3 linked regions of the Homo sapiens genome follow. The protein of the gene in region 1 purifies or fractionates together with the protein of each later gene. This does not show direct contact. Each region holds a gene or a part of one and is shown on either strand. Other genes may lie near its edges. The genes, in order: CCDC68, BTN3A2 and RPSA2.

Region 1 (3,383 bases):
TTATTTAAATGGAACTTATTACATACCAATGGCTTTGCAAGAAGATGACATTTCAGAAAATCAAACAAATCTATATTTAATGGATGGACTCTTCAAAACTTACCAAATAGTTGAAGAAACCAGGTGCCTTCTCATGATGGAAGACAGATTCTGCTTTAAATTAAAAAAAAAAAAAAATCTGAATCTTGTTTTCAGATTTTTTTTTCTACTGGGATTGTTTTAAGATTGTCAATTCTGACTTTTTTATAGTGGTTTTTAAGAGTATAAATAGAAGGGAGAGTGTATATGTGTATGAATGAACATACATTTCCTGCATATATATGTATGAAGGGCATGTATATGTATGAATGAGCAAACATATTTGAAAGTTAACTTTTGGATGATAGGAAAGATCGTACAGTGACATAAGTTCATCTCCTGATCCATTGTTTGTGGGAGAATTATACTTGACTGAATTATGGGCAGGAGAAAGAGCAGATTCCTTTTAGCTAATTCCCCAACCCATATGCCCCTCTGAAGTTGAGAATCATGGCTGCCTCACCACACATCAGAGAATGACTGTTCTTCTTAGTTCTGGGATTAAAAATTGGTTTCTAGAGGTAACCTGTACACACAAACGCACAGGGATGCACATGGTTTCCTCTGCCTTTGTGACTAATTTTCTTCTTGATAGTTATTAATAGTATCTAAATAAAATATTGGGGGGATAGAAAAATAATGCTGTTAGCTCATACTTCCATGAAAATGTATATATTATAGGCTCAAAGGAATAATGACTGCTGTCTGCAGCCAGAAAGAATCTGAATTTATGAATTGGAAAGATATATATAGTGTATTTGTGAAAGTTTGCTTAAATTCTGATACATGCCTTCTTTGTAGGTGGAGTTTGTGATTGCAGTGAATAGAACAAATTCTGACTTGCAGAAATGCAGACATACAGTCAGGAAAGAACAAACTTCAATTAAATGTATAATGAGAGACCTTGGTCCCCCTAAAGGATGAATTTCCTTTAGGCCTTTGATCTTCCTCTCTAGTGTATAACTTTAAATATTTGCTCAGAAAAGATGCTGACTCTTTCATTATGGAATGTGAAATATCAGTGTTGTCTATAAATATTTGAAGGTATATAAAAATGAGATGATGTAATGTATTTATAAATTTATCCAAGTACTGTAATCCTTGAATTGTTGTGTAACTGTGTGTGAGTTTTACGCTTCATGGTATTTTTGGAAACATTTTTATTGCTTGCTTATTTTGAAGGTATATTTATCTGTTAACATTTAGGGCATAGTTACCTTATACCAGCAACAAGTCTAAGCACTTTACTTGTATTAATTTATTTTATCTTCCCCAAGGCCCTCAGAAGCAGATTATTCCTGTTTTACAGAGAAAGATACTGAGAGTGGTTGAGTAATTTGCCCAGCTGCTAACTGTGAAGCAAAAATTTGAACCTTTTGACTTGGCTATTGATATTCATTCTACTTGCTCACATGGTGGTCTAAGAAATTTCCCAGCTATAGAAATCTCTCTATTTTTGCCACTTTAATCAACACATAGCTTCCTGGATGACTGCCTGTGTTATTTTGTGGATGACAGTAAGAAACAACAAATACTGATAAAATCAATATTTTGCTGAAATGAGTTGATCTTTCACCAGCTGGACTACCATTGTGAGAACTCAGTTCAGACAAACTTCCCTGCTAAAAATCTGTTTATCATACATTTATTATTTATGACTTTATGTCACATTGAAGAATTTCTTCATGATACATTTTCAGGCACACTTGTAGGAAAATTAGGATCATGAGTCCTGCTTTAAGTATTTGCAGTGTAGTAAGAGAATCCATCTTTTACTAGGAGACCAGATTCCTTTTATACCTCATTCATCATGCTGGATTGTAATAAATTTCAGATTTTGGAATGGGCTTATTTAACTGACCTGACAATCTTGATGATTTCCATTAGAATAACTTATTCTAAGGTCAAAAGTGGAAAGACACTGTTGGTTTTTATTTTGATTTCACTATACTCATTTTTGAACATGGAAATACAGTGGTGAAACCACCTATGCAAAAATGATAACAGTGAGGAAATTATGACAGTGAAAGAGATCTGACCTAACTATCTATCTTGCCTCGAAACTGCCCTTGGTCGTTCCTGAGTGTGGGCCAAGCTAACTTTGGGAGAAATTTACTTTATAGGTTAAATTATAATAGCCCTTCCCAAAACTAAACGATTCTCCTGCCTCAGCCTCCCGAGTAGCTGTCTTTATAATACCATCAGCCTTATCATTTATTCGTCATGTATGGATTGTTTCCTATATCCACTATCATAAAATTATCATTTGAAATATTTTTTTATGAAAAAAAAAACACTTCTCAGTGAAAAAACAAGATTACAAGGGGGAATAATATTTATTCAGCTAAAATAGTACTTCACAGGAAATATAGGAAAAGAAACACTAGTTCAGTTTTATTCCAAATAATGTACTTCTAATTATACTCTTGAATTTATTGGATAAGAAGGTCTGAGGTGGGTCTGAAATTCATACATGAAGTCAGGAAAAGAAAAGAAACTTAGTTCTACCTTGATTACATATGTTGTTACAAATTATCATTATAAAATGTTTAAACAATTAGTATAGTATATCTTTTGAATAATTGCTTATAATATGCCTTACCATAAAGAAAATTGATGCTACATTGTGTGAATTGTTTGGTTTTCTTTTTATATTAAAATTATGCATAAATGAATTAAGTAGTTTTTTGGTTTTTGTGGTTTTTTGTTTTTGTTTTGTTGTTGTTGTTTTGAGACAGAGTTTTGCTCTTGTTGACGAGGCTGGAGTGCAATGGCGCAATCTCGGCTCACTGCACCCTCCGCCTCCTAGGTTTAAGCAATTCTTCTGCCTCAGCTTCCCAAGTTGCTGGGATTACAGGCGACTGCTACCACACCCGGCTAATTTTTTTGTATTTTTCGTAGAGACAGGGTTTTGCCATGTTGGCCAGGCTGGTCTCGAACTCCTGACCTCAGGTGGTACACCCGCCTCAGCCTCCCAAAGTGCTGGGATTACAGGCGTGAGCCACCAGCGCCAGACCAGTAGGTTTTATCTGATTGTTTATGACAACATTATCCATAGTATATGTATTGTTTTGGTCAGTGAACAGATTTATAAATAGCTTCCTGAATTTTTCTGCTGCTTTTCCTTGGATTTAAATTGACAATAAAATAAATCTACTAAGCTTTTACTCTAAATTTGAAAAAAGAGTTATAAAATTAAGAGGAACACACACACACATACACACACACACAACTTCTCAAATTCATTCATGTTTACTTTGAACATCTCTACCTCTCTTCTGACCTGCAAATAAATACAGAATCCT
Region 2 (3,656 bases), on another chromosome or scaffold:
GCATAGATGAAAATGGCAAGTTCCCTGGCTTTCCTTCTGCTCAACTTTCATGTCTCCCTCCTCTTGGTCCAGCTGCTCACTCCTTGCTCAGGTAGGGAATGATTCCATGATTCCACATTTATGTTTCTGAAGCAGACAATTATCTCAATTACCTAATTAAGCAGACAATTACCTAAATGCCCTCTTAGAACCTTTAACTCATTCCCATACCTGGAAGTCCATCCCAACCTGAAGGATCACCTGTCACAAAGAGACAAATGGTCCTTCTGTTAGGATTGTGTTCCCCTCTAGGTTCTCTGTATCTCGCCTTCCCTGTCTGAGAAGGACCCTTCCTCTCATGACCCCAACTCCAAAACCCTCTGATGGAGCTTCCCCCTTGTGCTGACAGCTCAGTTTTCTGTGCTTGGACCCTCTGGGCCCATCCTGGCCATGGTGGGTGAAGACGCTGATCTGCCCTGTCACCTGTTCCCGACCATGAGTGCAGAGACCATGGAGCTGAAGTGGGTAAGTTCCAGCCTAAGGCAGGTGGTGAACGTGTATGCAGATGGAAAGGAAGTGGAAGACAGGCAGAGTGCACCGTATCGAGGGAGAACTTCGATTCTGCGGGATGGCATCACTGCAGGGAAGGCTGCTCTCCGAATACACAACGTCACAGCCTCTGACAGTGGAAAGTACTTGTGTTATTTCCAAGATGGTGACTTCTATGAAAAAGCCCTGGTGGAGCTGAAGGTTGCAGGTGAGCCTCCAGGTTTTGTTCTGAGAACATTTCTCTGTAGGATCTAGAGCAGATGCAGAGTCCCTCTTGCAAAAGCACTGCAGACACTCCTGGCTGCTCACTAGCAATTGCCTGCACTGCCTCCCAACTTAGCTTCTCTGAGGCCCTTGAGTAAGACACAGGTTTTCCTTTAGGAAGAATTCCTGCTGTACCCTACATGCTCAAGTAAAGAACTCCTTTCCTCTGGCCACCAGAGATATAAGCGAAGTGAAGGACGAGGGATAGGAAGCATAAGAAACCATCTCTTCAGTGACTGGTACACAGTCATTTTGGTTTAGTTGTGTAACAGATGGCTTCTGTTGTGTCTCCAAGTGCACACTACCATGGGTCCTGGGAGGTGGAATAGTGACTGTATCTGCTGCCAGTGTTCTCCAACTAGCCATCCCCAGGAATACTCCTGTAGTAGAACTAGCTGTATTTCTTACGTGTTGCAGTGAGGAAGAACACACATCATGGGGAGCTGTGGCGGGGTCTCAGTAAGAAGGTGTTAGAGCAGACTTGGTATACAATTTGGGCTTGTGTTAGGGGATTGGGGCCGGGGGAGTTCATAGACTTAGCCCTCTGCTCTGGATGAGATTCCATCAGGAAGGTGTGGGCAGGTTAATTCTGAGTGAGAGCCTTAATCAATCTTATGTAGGAAGAAGGAGACCAGGGTGAGACAAAAGCTGTAATTGATGAAGGGGCAGCAATCCCTCATTGCTGAGGGGGGATGTTTGGTCACTGCTGTGGTTTGGACAATGTTCATGTTTTTCTCTATGCTCACATATGATGTGGGGTGGTATTGTTTTTCCCATGATCCATCATAGTCACAAAGTGCCATTGTCTGTGTTCTGTGAAATTGCTTATGTTCAACAGGATGACACAGAGACCCGGTGTCAGTTTCCATATGTTGGGACAGCTTTTCTCTTTCTCAGTGCAATCCCTTGCCCTGTGGCTGCTGGTTAGGTTTGGTTTAAGGGGATCTCTAGCAGACAATCATAGGAGGAAGAGAAAAGGAAGAAGTCTGGGTGCTTATTCACTGGCTTCCTTACTGCAAGTTACCCTCAGGCTGGCTGCATTGCCTTGCTGAAGGTAACAGCTCCTCTAAAGGAAGTCCTCAATGCATGAATCTCTTCTTTTTTGTGTTCAAAACAGCTTCCTCTCCTCCTCCCTCTGGTAATTGGGGTGGGTGGGAATAGCCCCACTGTTTCTGACCCTGGGATACTGCACTAGCAAATTTAGTTTTCCCCTCATCATGACCACACTTTTGTAAACAGCTCCTGAATGAAATATCTCTTGAATTATCAAATCTGAGCCTGACATTGATTCCCATTGAGACCCTCCCTAATACAGGAGCTATCCAGAATTTAGGCCAAATTATCCTTCCACAGCACTGGGTTCTAATCTTCACGTCGAAGTGAAGGGTTATGAGGATGGAGGGATCCATCTGGAGTGCAGGTCCACCGGCTGGTACCCCCAACCCCAAATACAGTGGAGCAACGCCAAGGGAGAGAACATCCCAGCTGTGGAAGCACCTGTGGTTGCAGATGGAGTGGGCCTATATGAAGTAGCAGCATCTGTGATCATGAGAGGCGGCTCCGGGGAGGGTGTATCCTGCATCATCAGAAATTCCCTCCTCGGCCTGGAAAAGACAGCCAGCATTTCCATCGCAGGTCAGTACCTGCTTGGCCTCAGGTTTTCTGAGCTGAGCTGTGGCAGTTGAATGAAGGGGGATGTGTTAATATCTGTGGTCGACCTGGGTCTCTGCACTGAATATAAGGCCCAAAGCACAGACCTGGAGGCTCCTCTTTGTGCCAGGGGAGCTTCTTTCCTCCATAAAGGTGTTCGTAACACAAACATTTTCTGAACATTTCCTATCTGCCAGAAAGTATGACAGGCAATGGGAATTGGAGGAAAAACATTAAGATAAGCTCCTTATATAATGTGAAATGACAAAATGGTTATATATATATATTTACAAACTCATATCATAGAGAAAGAGCTGATCTCCTTGAATCAGAAGGAGATTCTAAAAACCTAGTAAAAAGTTTTGGCCAGGCATGGTGGCTCACGCCTGTAATCCCAGCACTTTGGGAGGCCGAGGCAGGCAGATCATTGAGGCCAGGAGTTTGAGACCTGCCTGGCCATGGTGAAACTCCATCTCTTCTAAAAATTCAAAAAATTAGCCAGGTGTGGTGGAGTGCACCTCTAATCCCAGCTACTCAGGAGGCTGAGGCACGAGAATCACTTGAACCCAGGAGGCAGACGTTGCAGTGAGTGAGAGCAGACCACTGCACTCCAGCCAGGATTACAGAGCGAGACTCTGTCTCAAAAAATAAATAAAATAAAATAAAATAGAAACCAAGTAAAAAAAATGTTAACAAAGCCCATGAATTATCAATTCACAGAAAAGGAAATAACTCACAAAAGGGTGCTCATTCTCACTCACTGGGTAAACATATGAAATAATTTTTCACTTATGATATTTGCAAAAATCAAAACTGCTTTGGCTTATAATACATGATTCTCATAGGAATGTAGGAAGGCAGTGACTCTCAGTCATTTGCTCATGTAACTTCCTGTATTTTTGATGTGCATTAGGTCAACCTCTGTTGGGGGCTCTATAGCAATATCTATCCAAACTACACACTTATCGATCCAAACTTCCACTTCTAGGAATTTATCTGATAGATAAGCTTGCATTTGTATGAGATGATCCATGTGAAAGGTTTCTGTTTTTCGTTGTGTGTGTGTCTTTTTTTTTTTTAGACAAAGTCTCACTCTATTGCCCAGGCTTGAGTGCAGTGGTGCAATCTCAGCTCGCTGCAGCCTCTGCCTCCCAGGTTCAAGTGATCCTCCTGCCTCAATCTCCCAAGTAGCTGAGATTACAAGCATGTGCCAC
Region 3 (3,656 bases), on another chromosome or scaffold:
ATAGAATTATCTCTGTGTTTGTTTTCCTGTATACAAAAATAAATGTTATCCTTGTATTTTTTTTCTAACTTGTATATTTGTTGTGTAGGTTTGTTGTGAATGGTTTTCTAATTCTGCGTAGATGAGTCATCATAAAATACTCTTTTTTTTTGAGATGGACTCTTGCTCTTCTTGCCCAGGCTGGAGTGTAATGGCGCGATCTCAGCTCACTGCAACTTCTGCCTCCTGGGTTGAAATGATTCTAGTGCCTCAGCCTCCTATGTAGCTGAGATTACAGGCATGTGCCAACATGCCTGGCTAATATTTTTGTATTTTTAGTAGAGACAGGGTTTCTCCATGTTGGTCAGGCTGGTCTTGAACTCCCAACCTCAGGTGATCTGCCCGCCTCAGCTTCCCAATGTACTGAGATTACAGGTGTGAGCCACCATGCTCAGCCCATAAAATTTTTATAATTTCAACAACCTATTTATTTGTAAATCTATATGATTTCTGTGTGGGAGAAACACTTTTGGATTTGAATATAATTTAAAACTATCATAACTCTGTATCTCTTTTAGTTATTATTGTTTATTTCTTGTCAAAAAAAAACAAAATTTACCACAAAATATTTTTAAATATTTAGTCATATCAATTATCTTGACATTGTCATGCAACATATTGCTAGAATGTTTTTATCTTGCAAAGCTAAATCTTAACACATATTAAACAACAAGTACTAATTTTTAATTTTTTCTTTTTTTCTTTTTTCTTTTTTTTTTTGAGCTGGAGTCTTACTCTGCTACTCAGGCTGGAGTGCTGTGGCATGATTCACCTCACTGCAACTTCCACCTCCCGGGTTCAAGCAATTCTCACGCCTCAGCCTCCTGAATAGCTGGAATTACAGGTGCCCATCACCATGCCTGGCTAATTTTTGCATTTTTAGTAAAGATGCAGTTTCACCATGTTGGCCAGCGTGGTTTCAAACTCCTGACCTTAGGTAATCTATCTGCCTCAGCCTTTCAAAGTGCTGGGATTACAGGTATGGGCCACCATGCCTGGCCACAATTTTTTCTGTTTTATAGCGTTTTGCAAACACCACTCTGTTTTTTGTTTTTAACAGTATAACTACTTCATGTATGTCATAAAATCTGTGTCTTTTTGTGATTGGCTCATTTCATTTTGCATAATGCCATCAAGATTTATATTTATAGTTGGTAGAATATTTCCTGCTTTTGAATACTGAGTATATTCCAGAATATATATATATATTTTTTGAGACAGTCTTGCCCTGTCACCTAGGCTGGAGTGCAGTGGGGCGATCTTGGCTCACTGCAACCTCTGCCTCCTGGGTTCAAGCAATTCTTTTGCCTCAGCCTCCCGAGTAGCTGGGATTACAGGCACGTGCCAACACGTTTGGCTAATTTTTGTATTTTTTTTTTCAGTAAGGACAGGGTTCACCATTGTTGGTCTGGTTGATCTCGAACTCCTTACCTTGTGATCTGCCTGCCTTGGCCTCCCAAAGTGCTGGGATTACAGGTGTGAACCACCGTGCCTGGGAAGAATTTTTATATTTCAAATTATATCTACTGAATGATTTATTGAAAGATATTTGCATTGCTTTTACCTATTTGCTTACAGTAACAATGCTGCAGCTTTTCCGCGCTACCTGCAGAGGGGTCCATACGGCGTTGTTCTGGATTCCCGTCGTAACTTAAAGGGAAACTTTCACAATGTCCGGAGCCCTTGATGTCCTGCAAATGAAGGAGGAGGATGTCCTTAAGTTCCTTGCAGCAGGAACCCACTTAGGTGGCACCAATCTTGACTTCCAGATGGAACACTACATCTATAAAAGGAAAAGTGATGGCATCTATATCATAAATCTCAAGAGGACCTGGGAGAAGCTTCTGCTGGCAGCTCGTGCTATTGTTGCCATTGAAAACCCTGCTGATGTCAGTGTTATATCCTCCAGGAATACTGGCCAGAGGGCTGTGCTGAAGTTTGCTGCTGCCACTGGAGCCACTCCAATTGCTGGCCGCTTCACTCCTGGAACCTTCACTAACCAGATCCAGGCAGCCTTCTGGGAGCCACGGCTTCTTGTGGTTACTGACCCCAGGGCTGACCACCAGCCTCTCACGGAGGCATCTTATGTTAACCTACCTACCATTGCGCTGTGTAACACAGATTCTCCTCTGCGCTATGTGGACATTGCCATCCCATGCAACAACAAGGGAGCTCACTCAGTGGGTTTGATGTGGTGGATGCTGGCTCGGGAAGTTCTGCGCATGCGTGGCACCATTTCCCGTGAACACCCATGGGAGGTCATGCCTGATCTGTACTTCTACAGAGATCCTGAAGAGATTGAAAAAGAAGAGCAGGCTGCTGCTGAGAAGGCAGTGACCAAGGAGGAATTTCAGGGTGAATGGACTGCTCCCTCTCCTGAGTTCACTGCTACTCAGCCTGAGGTTGCAGACTGGTCTGAAGGTGTACAGGTGCCCTCTGTGCCTATTCAGCAATTCCCTACTGAAGACTGGAGCGCTCAGCCTGCCACGGAAGACTGGTCTGCAGCTCCCACTGCTCAGGCCACTGAATGGGTAGGAGCAACCACTGACTGGTCTTAAGCTGTTCTTGCATAGGCTCTTAAGCAGCATGGAAAAATGGTTGATGGAAAATAAACATCAGTTTCTAAAAAAAAAAAAAAAAAAAATGCTGCAATAATTATGAGTCTATAAATGACTACTTATATGACCATATATGTGAAAGTTTATATATGTGCTGCATTCTATTTTATTAGTCTACTTTTTCACCTTTATACTCATATCAAATTGTTTAATTTGGTAGCTTTGTAATGTGTTTTGAATCAGGCACTTTAATGCCTGCAGCATTCTTTCTTTCTTTTTTTTTTTTTAATATTGTTGGGTAGTTTGTTTTTCTTTTGAGTCTCTGTATACTTTTGAGGTTGGTGTTTCTATTTCTTCAAAAATGCAATGAGAAATTTGAAAAATATTGCATTAAATCTGTAGATTGCATTGAGCAGGATGGACTCTGCAATATTAAGTATTTCAACCTTTGTGTAAGAGCACACTCAAGAGTGTGTTGTTTAGTTTCTATATATTTGTAAATTTTTCAGTTTTTTTTTTTTGCTTTTATCGTTGTATATTCTCATTCCATTTTGGTCATAGAATGTAGTTCATAGAAATTTACTTTTAAAAAATTTGATAAGACTTCCTTTTTGTCCTAAGATGTGGTCTTTCAAGGGAAATGTTGTATGAGCTATTGAGAAGGGTGTGTATTCTGATGTTGTTGAGGAGTGTTCTCCATAACTCTGTTTGGAATAATTGTTTTATACTGCCTTTAAGTAGTCTGTTCTTTTATTAACATTCTTTCTTGTTTTAGTTTTATTACAAAAAGTGTGGTATTAAAATATATTGTTCTAATTATATTGCTTTCTGTGTGTTTCTTCCATTCTGTCAATATTTGCTTTATATACTTGGAACCCTAATGTGAGACACACACACACACACACACACACACACACACAAATTTGTCATAGATTCCCTGTGAATGAATCTATTATTTTTTGATGTCCTTCTTTGTTTCTTTGGAGTTTCAATTTCAAGCACATTTTATAAAATATTATACTTTCTGACTTAAGATGTAGCTTGTGTGATATTATTTTG

The links.
Region 2: the proteins of CCDC68 (region 1) and BTN3A2 purify together in Homo sapiens (affinity purification with mass spectrometry; 2 studies listed by BioGRID and IntAct, with this or other methods). This does not show direct contact.
Region 3: the proteins of CCDC68 (region 1) and RPSA2 purify together in Homo sapiens (affinity purification with mass spectrometry; one large-scale study listed by BioGRID and IntAct). This does not show direct contact.

What each region holds. Positions count from the first base shown.
Region 1 is NC_000018.10:54,900,879-54,904,261, reverse strand, and holds the end of CCDC68 (coiled-coil domain-containing protein 68), read left to right. Parts: 3' UTR 1-2,753; downstream 2,754-3,383. UniProt on the Homo sapiens protein: Centriolar protein required for centriole subdistal appendage assembly and microtubule anchoring in interphase cells. Together with CCDC120, cooperate with subdistal appendage components ODF2, NIN and CEP170 for hierarchical subdistal appendage assembly.
Region 2 is NC_000006.12:26,368,177-26,371,832, forward strand, and holds part of BTN3A2 (butyrophilin subfamily 3 member A2 isoform a precursor), read left to right. Parts: intron 1-1; 5' UTR 2-6; coding exon 7-91; intron 92-388; coding exon 389-736; intron 737-2,145; coding exon 2,146-2,427; intron 2,428-3,656. UniProt on the Homo sapiens protein: Plays a role in T-cell responses in the adaptive immune response. Inhibits the release of IFNG from activated T-cells.
Region 3 is NC_000019.10:23,825,453-23,829,108, forward strand, and holds the end of RPSA2 (small ribosomal subunit protein uS2B), read left to right. Parts: intron 1-762; exon of another isoform or gene 763-883; intron 884-1,617; 5' UTR 1,618-1,709; coding exon 1,710-2,597; 3' UTR 2,598-3,416; downstream 3,417-3,656. UniProt on the Homo sapiens protein: Required for the assembly and/or stability of the 40S ribosomal subunit. Required for the processing of the 20S rRNA-precursor to mature 18S rRNA in a late step of the maturation of 40S ribosomal subunits. Also functions as a cell surface receptor for laminin.